2 separate regions of the Homo sapiens genome follow, and region 1 is linked to region 2. The links come from fine-mapping of genetic effects on gene expression. A gene starts in region 2. The other region holds a variant in brackets. All regions are shown on one strand. Distances are from middle to middle.

Region 1 (5,370 bases), 140 kb before region 2:
TCATTCTTCGACAGACAGCTTCTGTGACTTGGCCTGGGACTCTGATAGCTTGGCACCTTCACCACCCCTTGCAGCCCTCAAGGAGAGGCAAACCTCAATAAAATGACTGGGAGAGAAAGCCAGAGGAGGAAGCATCCACAGGGCCCATCCAGTAAGGGGGGTGGGGTCCCTGACACCAGAAGCATTGCTGCCCTGGGAGAAGTAACGAATGATTGTAGGGCCAGCAACAAAATAGGCTAAAACACAGCTGCCTTCAGAGGAGGTGAGCTAAGTAGGAGTTGTGAGGATCTGAAGGTCATATGCCCTCCGGCCTAACAGGGCCCTCCTCACTCAGCTCTGTGGCTAAGCAGAGGGTGGGCCCAGGACTGTAGGAGCTTTTGATTTTTTTCAAGAGAAGCTAAGATTCTGAATTTTTACATAAAATTGCCTGTTTTTATTTAAAAAATCATTAATAAAATCAAACCTAAAAAATCAAAAAGCACCGGCAGCCAAATAAAATAAACTTGCAAGGGAGCATGAGTTGGTGACCTCTGGGCTATTTTTTTACGCAAGTTCAGAGAGACAGCATGGGTTTTTAGATTGTACCCAGAGGCGGAAGTACAAGGCAGGGCAGGTACACACAGGACGTTCCTGGCGCTCTCTTCTCCACCTTCCTTCCCCTGTCCTCTCTTCTTAGCACTTCCTAGGGCTTTACATTGTGTTCTACACTTGTGTGGGTTCTTCATTTTCTGACACTCCTTCTCACAGCTAGAATAAAACCTCCAGGAGGCCAGAGACCTGTTTGCTAACAGCTGTATCTCTCATTTTTTGACTATATCTGGTACACAGTAGGCGCTCAATAAATAGTGGCCCAGTTGAAAAGGAATGACTGGTCCATGCTCCCATCTACAACATCCAAGCCAGGCTGAGTTGGTGTCACAGACCCCTCATTTCAGGGTCTGTCATCGAATTCAGAGTAGTTCATGAGGCTGCTGTGGACCAGAGTGACCCAGCATAATCCCTATCCAGAATTTTAAGACAAATACAATGCTACCAAATCCAGTTTTATTTTGTATTTCTGTGTGTGTGTGTATGTGTGTGTGCGCGTGTGTGTGTGTGTGTTTTGGTTAAAAAAAATCTGCAAGAGAGGAAGAAAAATACACATCCATCCGTGGCGTATATTCAGCTGTGATCATGAAAATACTGAGTTATTGTCTGAAATCGTGTAAAGCAAGAACCTGCATTAAGAAAGCATAGCTAAGCAAACAGGCCCGGGACCCATATCTGCTGACATACCGTGCTATCCTGAGACTGCCGCAGAACATTTGCAAAGCCGTGTTCTCTAAGAATTCTGCACAGTGCAAACAGGCATGAGGGGAAAAAATACTACTAGGGAACTTCTAGTTCTTGCTGAAAAGGAAAATTTTGAGCTCTAAATCTAGCACTACCAAGCAAGAGAGGCATCTGTGGCTGCATATAAAGCTGGTACTCCTTTGCTTGAACAAAATCCCTCAGTATACAGTACTTAAAATAAACAAAGCTCAAAACAGTCAGCTACACACGCATGTTTTTTGGCCACATGCTGCCTGAAGAAAATAGCTATGCAGTGTGCATGCCCTAGTTTAAACCAAGCCTGAATACCGCACAGTCTCATTCCTCTCCCGGTCTCCTTTTCTAGACAGAAATACATTTCCCTTTAATGTACAAGTGAGAAAAAAATATGTTTAAAAGACAGTCCAGGCCCTTGATAAAAGCACTTACTTTGAAAGAACAGGACAGACTACGTATTCAAAACAAGAGCGCCTTCTTAAAGTGCAGGCTCAGAAGTTGTTCAATGGCCAGGACCTTCATTTGTGCTGGCAGCTCTGGTCCTGCTGGGCATGGTTAAGGGCGAGGCTCGCAGCCCGCACGGCGTGGTCCTTCAGGGGTGCTGCGTCAGGCTGACGCTCCGGAACAGTTACTGGGACAGGCTGTGAGCGACTCACCAGGACAGTTTTATTTCTGTGCTGAGCTTGCTGCTTCCTGCTGGGAAAATGTTAGTGGCGGAGTCACACCCAGGTACCGGGCCGCAGCCAAGGCTCCGCAGATGACCCGAGTTCTGATGGAGGTGGGGACGGGCGGCGCCCGGCACCTAGGGGGCAGAGGGCGAGCAATCCCGGAAGAAGACTCACGCTAGGCGATTGGTCTCCTCACGGGAGCTCCTCGACCCTGCCAAGGGCATGACTCAGCTCACCCAGGGCAGTGCTGGACCACACTATTTATCCCCTAAGGTCCAGGAAAGCCGAGTTCAGGCAATGACTGGCGAAGAGCTAGAGGGGAGGCAGGGAGGCCCCTAAGTCACTGGGGTCTAGAGGT[T/C]GTGGCCTCACATGCACACAGATTCAGCCCCTTTCTCTTTGGTAGCTGTTGCAATAGAGTGGCCTAGGACTCCGACCCTGAAAACTATGAGGAGGGGGAGGGGAAACAGGAGGAGAACGGGGAGATGGGGGAAGAGGGACAGGAGAAGGAGGAGGAAAAGGAGGAGGAGGAGGAGGAGGAGGAGGAGGAAAAGGAGGAGGAGGAGGAGGAGGAGGGAGAGTAAAGCAGCCGGCCTTACAATGGAGGTTCCAAATCAATAAGTGTAGAGAATTAATGATGTCCTGATTTTCTGTTGGTGTCAGGATGACAAACTGCAGAGTTAGAAGAGAGGCTTCTCATGACTTTGTCAATTTATATCTGCACAACATTATAACCAAAAGCAAGCCGGAGATTAGTGGAAGTTTAGGGAAGCTGGCTGTGGTTCTACACCTCTGTCTCCTGATACGTTCTAGACCCAGGATGTGTCTAGATGAAGGATGTGGTGGGGCGGGGTATGGTGTAGGGAACCTCAGGATCGTTTTCAGTTTGGAAGATTTAAGCAAGAACATAAAAGTTCTGGAGCCACAGATTTTCTTTATTGTGTAGAGTATGGGGTGAAGGAGACTGATGTAACAATGCCCATTCTGTGTCAGGAGAGGGGTGTTGCTGTCAGGAGCCCTGGGGCTCCACCTCAGCCCTGCGATCTCTGGGTGATCTCTGATGACACACAACCTCTCTGGGCTCCTCTCTCTTTCTTCTTCTTTCTCTCCTCTCCTCACCTCTCCTCCTCTCCTTTGTCTTTCTCTTCCCTCCCTCTCTCCATTGTTTTCCCTCCCTCCCTCCCTTCCTTCCTTCCTCTCTCCCTCCCTCCCTTCTTGCTTGCTTTCTTCTTTCTCTCTTTCTTTCCTTCCTTCCTTCTTCCTTCCTTCTTTCCTTTCTCTTTTTCTTTCCTTCCCTCCTTTTTTCTCTCTCTTTTTTCCTCTTTCCCTTCCTCCCTCCTTCCTTCCTTCCTCTCTCCCTCCCTTTCTTGCTTGCTTTCTTCTTTCTTTCCTTCCTTCCTTCTTCCTTCCTTCTTACCTTTCTCTCTCTTTCTTTTCTTTCCTTCCCTCCTTCTTTTCTTTTTTTCTCTCTCTTTTTTCCTCTCTTTCCCTTCCTCCCTCCCTCCTTCCTTCCTTTCTTCCTTCCTTCTTCCCTCCCTCCCTCTCCCCTTCCTTCCTCCCTCCCTCCCTCCCTCTCCCCTTCCTTCCTCTCTCTCTCTCTTTCTTTCCTTCCATAGCATCTTGCTCTGTTGCCTAGGCTGGAGTGCAATGGCACGATTATAGCCCACTGCAGCCTCTAACTCCTGGGCTCAAGCAATTCTGCCTCAACCACCAGAGTAACTGTGACTGCAGGTGCACTGCCATGCCTGGCTAAAATTTTATTTTTATTAGAGATGGGGTCTCACCATGTTGCCCAGGCTTATATAGACTGGTCTCAAGCTATCCTCCCGCTATCCCCCTCCCAAAGTGCTGGATTACAGGCATGAGCCACTGTGCCTGGTCTGGGCTTCACTTTCGACATGAGAAGTTGTTATGATCCCTCAAATTTTAGTGCCCTATTCTTCCATGTCCTGCCATCTAGCACATGCCCTAAACAGAAGGAAATCAAATGAACCAAGTTTTCCTGCATATTTCTTCCATTGTCCTCCCTTCATTCCTCTACCTTAAGGCAGTAAATTCCACCAAAGGATCACACCTTGGCATTGTAGTCAAAACAGAGCTAAACTCTGAACAGCCCAGAGGAACTGATTTTCTAGTCTTTGGAGAGTATAGCAGACATGGAGCTGTGCTTCTCTTTTAAGAACAGATTCATTGCCTAGTTGTCAGGATGCTGTCAGCTGACAGCTTCCAGCCACCAACTCCTTCCACTCCACCTATGTATGGAGGGGTGCTCAGGCTCTCTTTAGGGTGCCTTGGCCTAACATTAAGCTAGTTGGGGATGCAGGGGTCTAGCCATTCCCACCCAACACTGGGTCTCTGAACAGGCAGTTTTTGCTCCTGAGAGTCCACTGGGCTGGCAGAGGCTCTGCCAGGCTGCAGCCCCCACACAATTCCACTTCCTCCCTTTCCCTGTCACAAACGTTAGTTCTCTCTTGCCCTCTCAGGGGACCTAACAGACACAGAGATGCCAGTCATTTGCAATGCATGTTTTGTTTTTTCTCCACAGAGGGCCTTTGATAGGCTTAGAAAGCCATCTTTGGGTGACAAGATACTTGTCTTTGTAGCATAAAGATCTTCAGCACAGATTTCTTTCTCATTCTCTTATTCACAGATGTGGAAAGGCTTAGTTCCCGTCAGGTCTAGCTAGTGTTTCTCAACCAGGAGTGCATACCAGAATTACCTAGAGACCTTTTCAGTGTGCAACTACACAGGCTTCACGTGCAGAGCTAGACTTGGTGGTTTGCGATGTACCCCTGGTTGAGAACCGGTGTTTATAGCATAAAATTCTTCCTTGTATGAGCCTCTCCCAGAGATAAGCATTCATCCTGCTAAGGATCATTCCAGAAGCTGAAAATACATTAAGTGGTCAATTAAATGATCCCTAGTTTATTTCCTTTCTTTTTTAGAGACAAGGTCTTGCTACGTCACGCAGGCTGGAATGCAGTGGTGCCATATTAGCTCACTGTAGCCTGGAACTCCTGGGCTCAAGCGATTCTCCCTGTTCAGCCTCCTCAGTAGCTGGGACTACAGGCACACACCATCATGCCCAGCTAATTTTTTTTTTTTTATTTTTCATAGAAATGGGATCTCCCTATGGCTCGGGCTGGTCTCATACTCGTGGCGTCAAGTGATCCTCCTGCCTTAGCCTCCAGAGCTTATTTCCAGATATTTTCATAAGTCCACCTAGTAGTGCTGCAGACTCATTTCAGAGCATGATGAATCTTCTTATAAAATATTAGGGGAAGGTGTAGGGAACTTTGAGATTATTTTTAATTTTGAAGATTTACATGAAAGCACAGAAGTTATGGGGCCATAGATTCCCTTTACTGAGTAAGGTGCGGGGTAAGGAGCTTTGCAT
Region 2 (5,370 bases):
CAGAATGCTGGAACTAGAAAGAACGATAGAAACCAGCCAGTCCAACTTCCTTTACCATGAGGAATGAGACTCAGGCTTGTCTTTCCATATCACATCTGGCCTTTTAATATTTCTTTTGTTAACAATCATATCAGATGGAAGCATAATAGAAGGTAAAGCTCAAAGTGATCTTGTAATACATCCATCTTTAAAAGCCAGAGTGTAAAAGGAATCAAGTCAAATGATGCTATATACACAAATAACAGAGCTGCAGTCCCTCTGTATTGATACATTGATGGGCTGTTCCAGCTCCGGATGTGACCTCCCTATCAAGTCAATAATGTCACAATCTAAACAAACTTAGGCAATTTGCCTTCATGAAAAAACTACTCCAAAAAAAAAGAGAACTGTCATTCCACAAAGCAGCCAACTGCACTAGACTGGGATTATAGTGTGGAATTAGTCAGAACGTGGATTATTAAATAAAACACTAGAACGGCCAATTTGCCTGGAGGTCTAGGAATTAAAATAGTGCTTTGTTTTTCCAATGCCACATTCCAGAGGAAGCAGCAAGCGGAGGGAACAGGCAACAGGGAATTCTACCAACAGGGAATTCTACCACAATCTATCTCTCTACCAAACAGGCACACACATTCATACCAGGGTGGGCATGTGGACTCTAATCCCTTCTTAGTGGAAAACACACATTTTTAAATGAATCCCCAATCTAGAATGAATTACCGTAATAGCCACAGCCGGAGTGAGTCTGCTGATGAGAAACGCAGATCTGGCCACCTGCTTTGAGACGCCTTGGACCACAACACTGCCGGGGTCTTTAACGGTTGGCCTTTTCGGGTAGGGCATCTGCCCTCCTAAATCGCGTTTAAATCCCAGGAAAAGAGAGAAGATGCCTCCCTCAATTTTTGAACTATGCTGCTCTTGCTGTATCCGTTTCTGCTGAACATAGCATTGATATCTTTTCAAAGAGAAGGGGGGAAAACAAGGGGAGAATTGCACCACTGCAGATTCCAAGAGAAGTAAGCACAAAACTACAGCAACGTCAAATAATATCTTCTTCGGCAACTAGGAAAATCCCCACATGCTCTCTGGTGTCAGCCCAATGCAGACTGAGGCGCGCTGTGCCCGGAACCACAGGAAGCCGGGCATCTCTGCAGCCTGTGTCCCTGCCAGCTCCCCCTACGCGCTGAAATTCGGCAGGGAAGAAGTTATGGTGCCCAGCCTCTGTGTGCAAGACAGAGACACCGCGCATCATGGCTCTGAAAATCAGCCAAGTGGCCGGGACGTCAAAGCGGCAGAGCAATCAGAATGCCCTGGAGCCGGGGATGGAGGGGCCACATTGTTTGAGCCCTCGGATTTTGCTGCATTGTCACCGCCCGGGAACGTGGGGGTAGCAGGAAGCGCACCTCCAGCCAAAAATGGACCGGACGCATTCCCCCCCCCTCCCCGCCCCGGCAGCTCCCTCCCTGCCTGTCTGCAAGTCGCAATACGGTAGGCGACATGACTGCTCCCGCTAAAACTCAGGTGGCAGGCCCGGCTGAGCGGCGCAGCCGGCCGGTAACAGGGAGGCGCTGGGGGAGCACCCACACAGCGCCTCCTCCCCTCCTGCACCCGTCCATGGGAGCAAGGGCCGGACCTGGCCACGCGCCCCTCGAGCGAGCACCGGCGAGCCCGTGCGGAGGCTCTGGGCGCTCTCTGGGCTAACCACGGGCATTGCATGGGACACAATTGTTCAAAAGCGAGCCCAAGGCGAAGCGCAAATCCAGAGCTTTGGTTCACAAGGGGTGGGTGTGGGCTGGGAAGGGGGATTACGTAGGTCTCTCCGCCCCCTCCCCTGACACCTCCTCGCCACTGGGAGGGCGCTGAGGGGCGGGGGAGGCGCTGCGAACCCGCTTGGGGGCTTCTTTGTTTCTCTCCGTACCCCGCAGGAGGGCCGGGTGCGCCTGCAGTACCCAAGCCGGGGTCGCCACCCGGGGATGCCGGCCCGGACCGGGCGGCGGCGCGACCCAGGCTGACAATTGAACCTCGCGGGAGAAGCGAGAGGGTGGGGAGGAGGGTGGATCTCGGCCCCGAGAAGGGAGGGCGCTGCCGGGGCCTCGCGTGCGGCGGGGAAGCCGCCCAGAGAAGGGCGGGGGGGAAGGGGCGGCAGACAGTGTCCCCGCGCTACGCCCGCTTACCTTGGCAGCCCTGGCCTGGGCACAGATCATGCTCCTGTCAGCGCGCAGATTAGAGCTGGGGGGCGCACGTGCCCCGCATAGTGCACCGGGCGCCTGGGACTGGCTGGGGAGGGGACCCTGGCGACCGCCCGCTCTCGCTGCGCTCTGGCTGCCGGGTGCCCCGAGAGAGCGGAGGCCACGGCCACTGTCACGGCGGAGGGGCGCGCGCGGCTCGGCGAGTGTGTGCGCGAGGAGGGGGCCGGTTCGGTCAGAGTCGCACGGTGTTCCGGCTCCAACAACAGCGCCTGATGCGCGGTAACGCAGCACACTTCATCGCTTTATCCTCCCGCTTGCATCCCCTCCCTCCCTGCCTGCTCCTCTGTGGGTACCAGACTCCAGAACCAACCACAAGCCGGGCTTGCTCTCATTAGCGCTGCCCCGCCCTGCAGCCTCCGCGCACCCCCACCCCCGCCCCCGCGGTAAATATATATCGATTCTTGTTACCGCCGGCCCCATCCTTCCAACACCCAGCACGCGTACTGGGCATATCCAACACCAACCCTGGCTCCTCGGCCCTTTTGTGTGTGTGCAAACAGTGTAGCAGAAAGGATGCGGTACAGACACTCTAGGCGGGTACCCTGTGACAGGTGTTCTTGGCCTCTGTCTTAGACACTTTCCTCGCTTACCTTACACACAGTTAAGAACGCTCAGAGACACATTTCAGGAACCGTCCTGTATTTGCACAAGCACACAAAACATCGTAATGACAAATGCAAAGGATGAAAATCACCCCAGAATATCTATTGTTGGGCAAACCTAGCTCCCAAACCGCGTTTTCTATTACACTGCACACAGTGTCAGAATGCTAGAACGAGAAGGAGGCAAAGTCTAGACCCTTCCAGGTACAGCCAACTGAGATGCAAAGAGAAGTGAAATGCTGGTTACTATTGGTGGTTGGCTGCTCCATGTATGCACATTTTTGTGCATCTGGTCGACATTTGGTTTGTGTGTGTTCACATAAAATGCAGAGGCTTTGAGCACATAATCTCTATAGCCTGGGATTTTATGATCCAACCACATTCTCTACAATGCTGATTTATTCCTTCCCATTATTTTGCCCAGCATCCTCTACATGAGCTTTTTTTCACTTTCTGAGAAGTTATCTTCTTTCCCAGACCCCAAACTCCGCCTCCTCTAGAATAAACAAAGGCTTCACCCTGACTTCAGAACTCCTTACTGAAGACCTGAGTACGGACTTGTCAAAACCAAATCTCCTTCCCCTTCCACCCACAGTGGCTAGTTTCTCAGTGCCTCTCATTCCACTGACCTGCCTCTTGGCATTGATTTCACTCTTACAACTGGAACTTTCCAGAACTGGAAACTTTGGACGATGTGAAGGCAGCTTCACCAGCTGTGCTCTTTTCTGCAAGGAGGCACAGCCCTTCTCTTTCCGTATTCCACTTGGGGTGCCCAGTCCTTTCCTGACAGACCCTTTTCTTTGCCTGACAGCAGTCAGATCTTCTGGTCAGATGAGCTCAAAGCAGACCATTTTCAAACCTTAGCTAAGAATCCACACAGAAAGCTGTGCACACATTTCTCCGGATTTTACACTTGGATTAGTACCAACTCCTATATGAAGAAAACTCTCCGAGAATAGACTTGAACAGGCTGTGGCAGTAAACAGCAACAGCAACCAACCATGTGATGTTTCCAACCAGAGACTTGAAAGAAAACAAAAACTTTCACATAAACCAGCATCCATGGTTTCTAAATTAGCACAATGTCACCAAACCACAATAAAGGATAATTTTTTTACCTCAACTAATTGCCAGGATGTTCACCTCATTATTTTCAGTGAATCAGCATCAACTTGGCTCAGAGATGTTTGCTCTCTGTTCTATCCATCATGGAGATGACTTGACAAGTCCACATCTCTCATAGAGGTTATTGATGTAGCAATCCTTGTGGTGTGCTTTATCCTCCCCTGAGGAGTTGCTTTTTTTATACTGAAGACAAAAGATATTAAAATAGCAGTACACAAAGTTTCACATCCTGAGTAGATAAAGAAGCCTTGTAGAGCAGCTTCTACATGTCAGGTGCAATGGCAGCATATACAGACTCCTGTGTATTGTCCCCTTTTATTTTTATTATTTTTATTTTTTGTGAGGGGTCTCACTCCAATGCCCAGGGTGGAGTATAGTGGTGCAATCTCCATTCACTGCAACCTCCGCCTCCCAGGCTCAAGCAACTCTCCCCCCTCAGCCTCCCGAGTACCTGGGAGTACAGGTGTGTGCCACCATGCCTGGCTAATTTGTTTTTTGTATTTTTAGTGGAGATGGGGTTTTGCCAAGTTGCCCAGGCTGGTCTTGAACTCCTGAGCTCAAGCAATCCTCCTGCCTCAGCCCCCCAAAGTGCTAGGATTACAGACGTGAACCACCATGCCTGGCCTGTTTTGTTTGTTATTCCTAACAGTCCCCCTGTAGTCTGGGTAGCATGATCCTATTTTACAGAAGAAAGCAAAAAGGCTATGTTAGTTCTGTAATTTCCTTAAGTCTTGTTTCAAGCAGAAGACCTTGAATCTGGAGTTTACAGATGTCAGCTGCCCTAACCTTAAAGAGAAGAGTATTTGGTGGAGAAAGGAAAAGACATGGCATGAATCTTAAAGCCATCCTAGTAGTCATATTTATTAAGTTTCTAATGTACTCAAAATACTGTTATAAATAATAAGTCACAGTCCCAGTGCGTCCCTCCTAATACTAACCTTATATAATGGCGTAAAGTGAATGTTGAAGGTTTTGAGATGCATATACAAACACCTGTATTATCATAATGCCCATGCAACCGAATCTTCCACCTTTTGTAACTCGAGGCCCAGGAGGACCCAGGGAGGGGGTGACATGCCTGCTCACCTGCTCATCTCAGGCCACATGCAGATAAAGATTAGCAAACAGAGCACCATTCACAAATGGTCCCTACAATGCTGAGAAAACGATAACTTGAACCAATCCGGGGCTTTATCTTTGGGGATAGGCCTTCAACATAATGTCGGAAGTGAACGCACTATAACTAGGGGAGGAAAAAGACCGAGCTGTTGAAGCTATCTCACATAGTCTCTGCACAGGAGCAAATTGTAGCCAATAATACAAGATTGTCATTTGGACTTTCCTAATGACTAATGATGGTGAGCATCTACTTTTGTGCTTCTCTTCCATCCGTC

Which allele goes with the higher level. Positions count from the first base shown, and alleles are read on the strand shown. Sizes are in standard deviations (SD) of each study's normalised expression.
With allele C in place of T in region 1, the expression in fibroblasts of the gene that starts at base 2,465 in region 2 is higher (small effect, 0.26 SD a copy in GTEx).

The links. PIP is the estimated chance that this variant, and not a neighbour inherited with it, causes the effect.
Region 1: its variant is fine-mapped to the expression of HECW1 in fibroblasts (GTEx, PIP 0.94).

The regions. Positions count from the first base shown.
Region 1 is chr7:43,245,850-43,251,219 of GRCh38, reverse strand. All of the region lies in intron 3 of HECW1 (HECT, C2 and WW domain containing E3 ubiquitin protein ligase 1), which reads right to left. It overlaps LOC124901619 (a long non-coding RNA gene), which reads left to right and starts at 1,922. Exons shown (of 2, transcript XR_007060295.1): 1 at 1,922-2,037. The variant T/C (reference allele first, on the strand shown) is at 2,335.
Region 2 is chr7:43,109,742-43,115,111 of GRCh38, reverse strand. HECW1 (HECT, C2 and WW domain containing E3 ubiquitin protein ligase 1) reads right to left here and starts at 2,465. Exons shown (of 30, transcript NM_015052.5): 1 at 2,175-2,465; 2 at 721-955.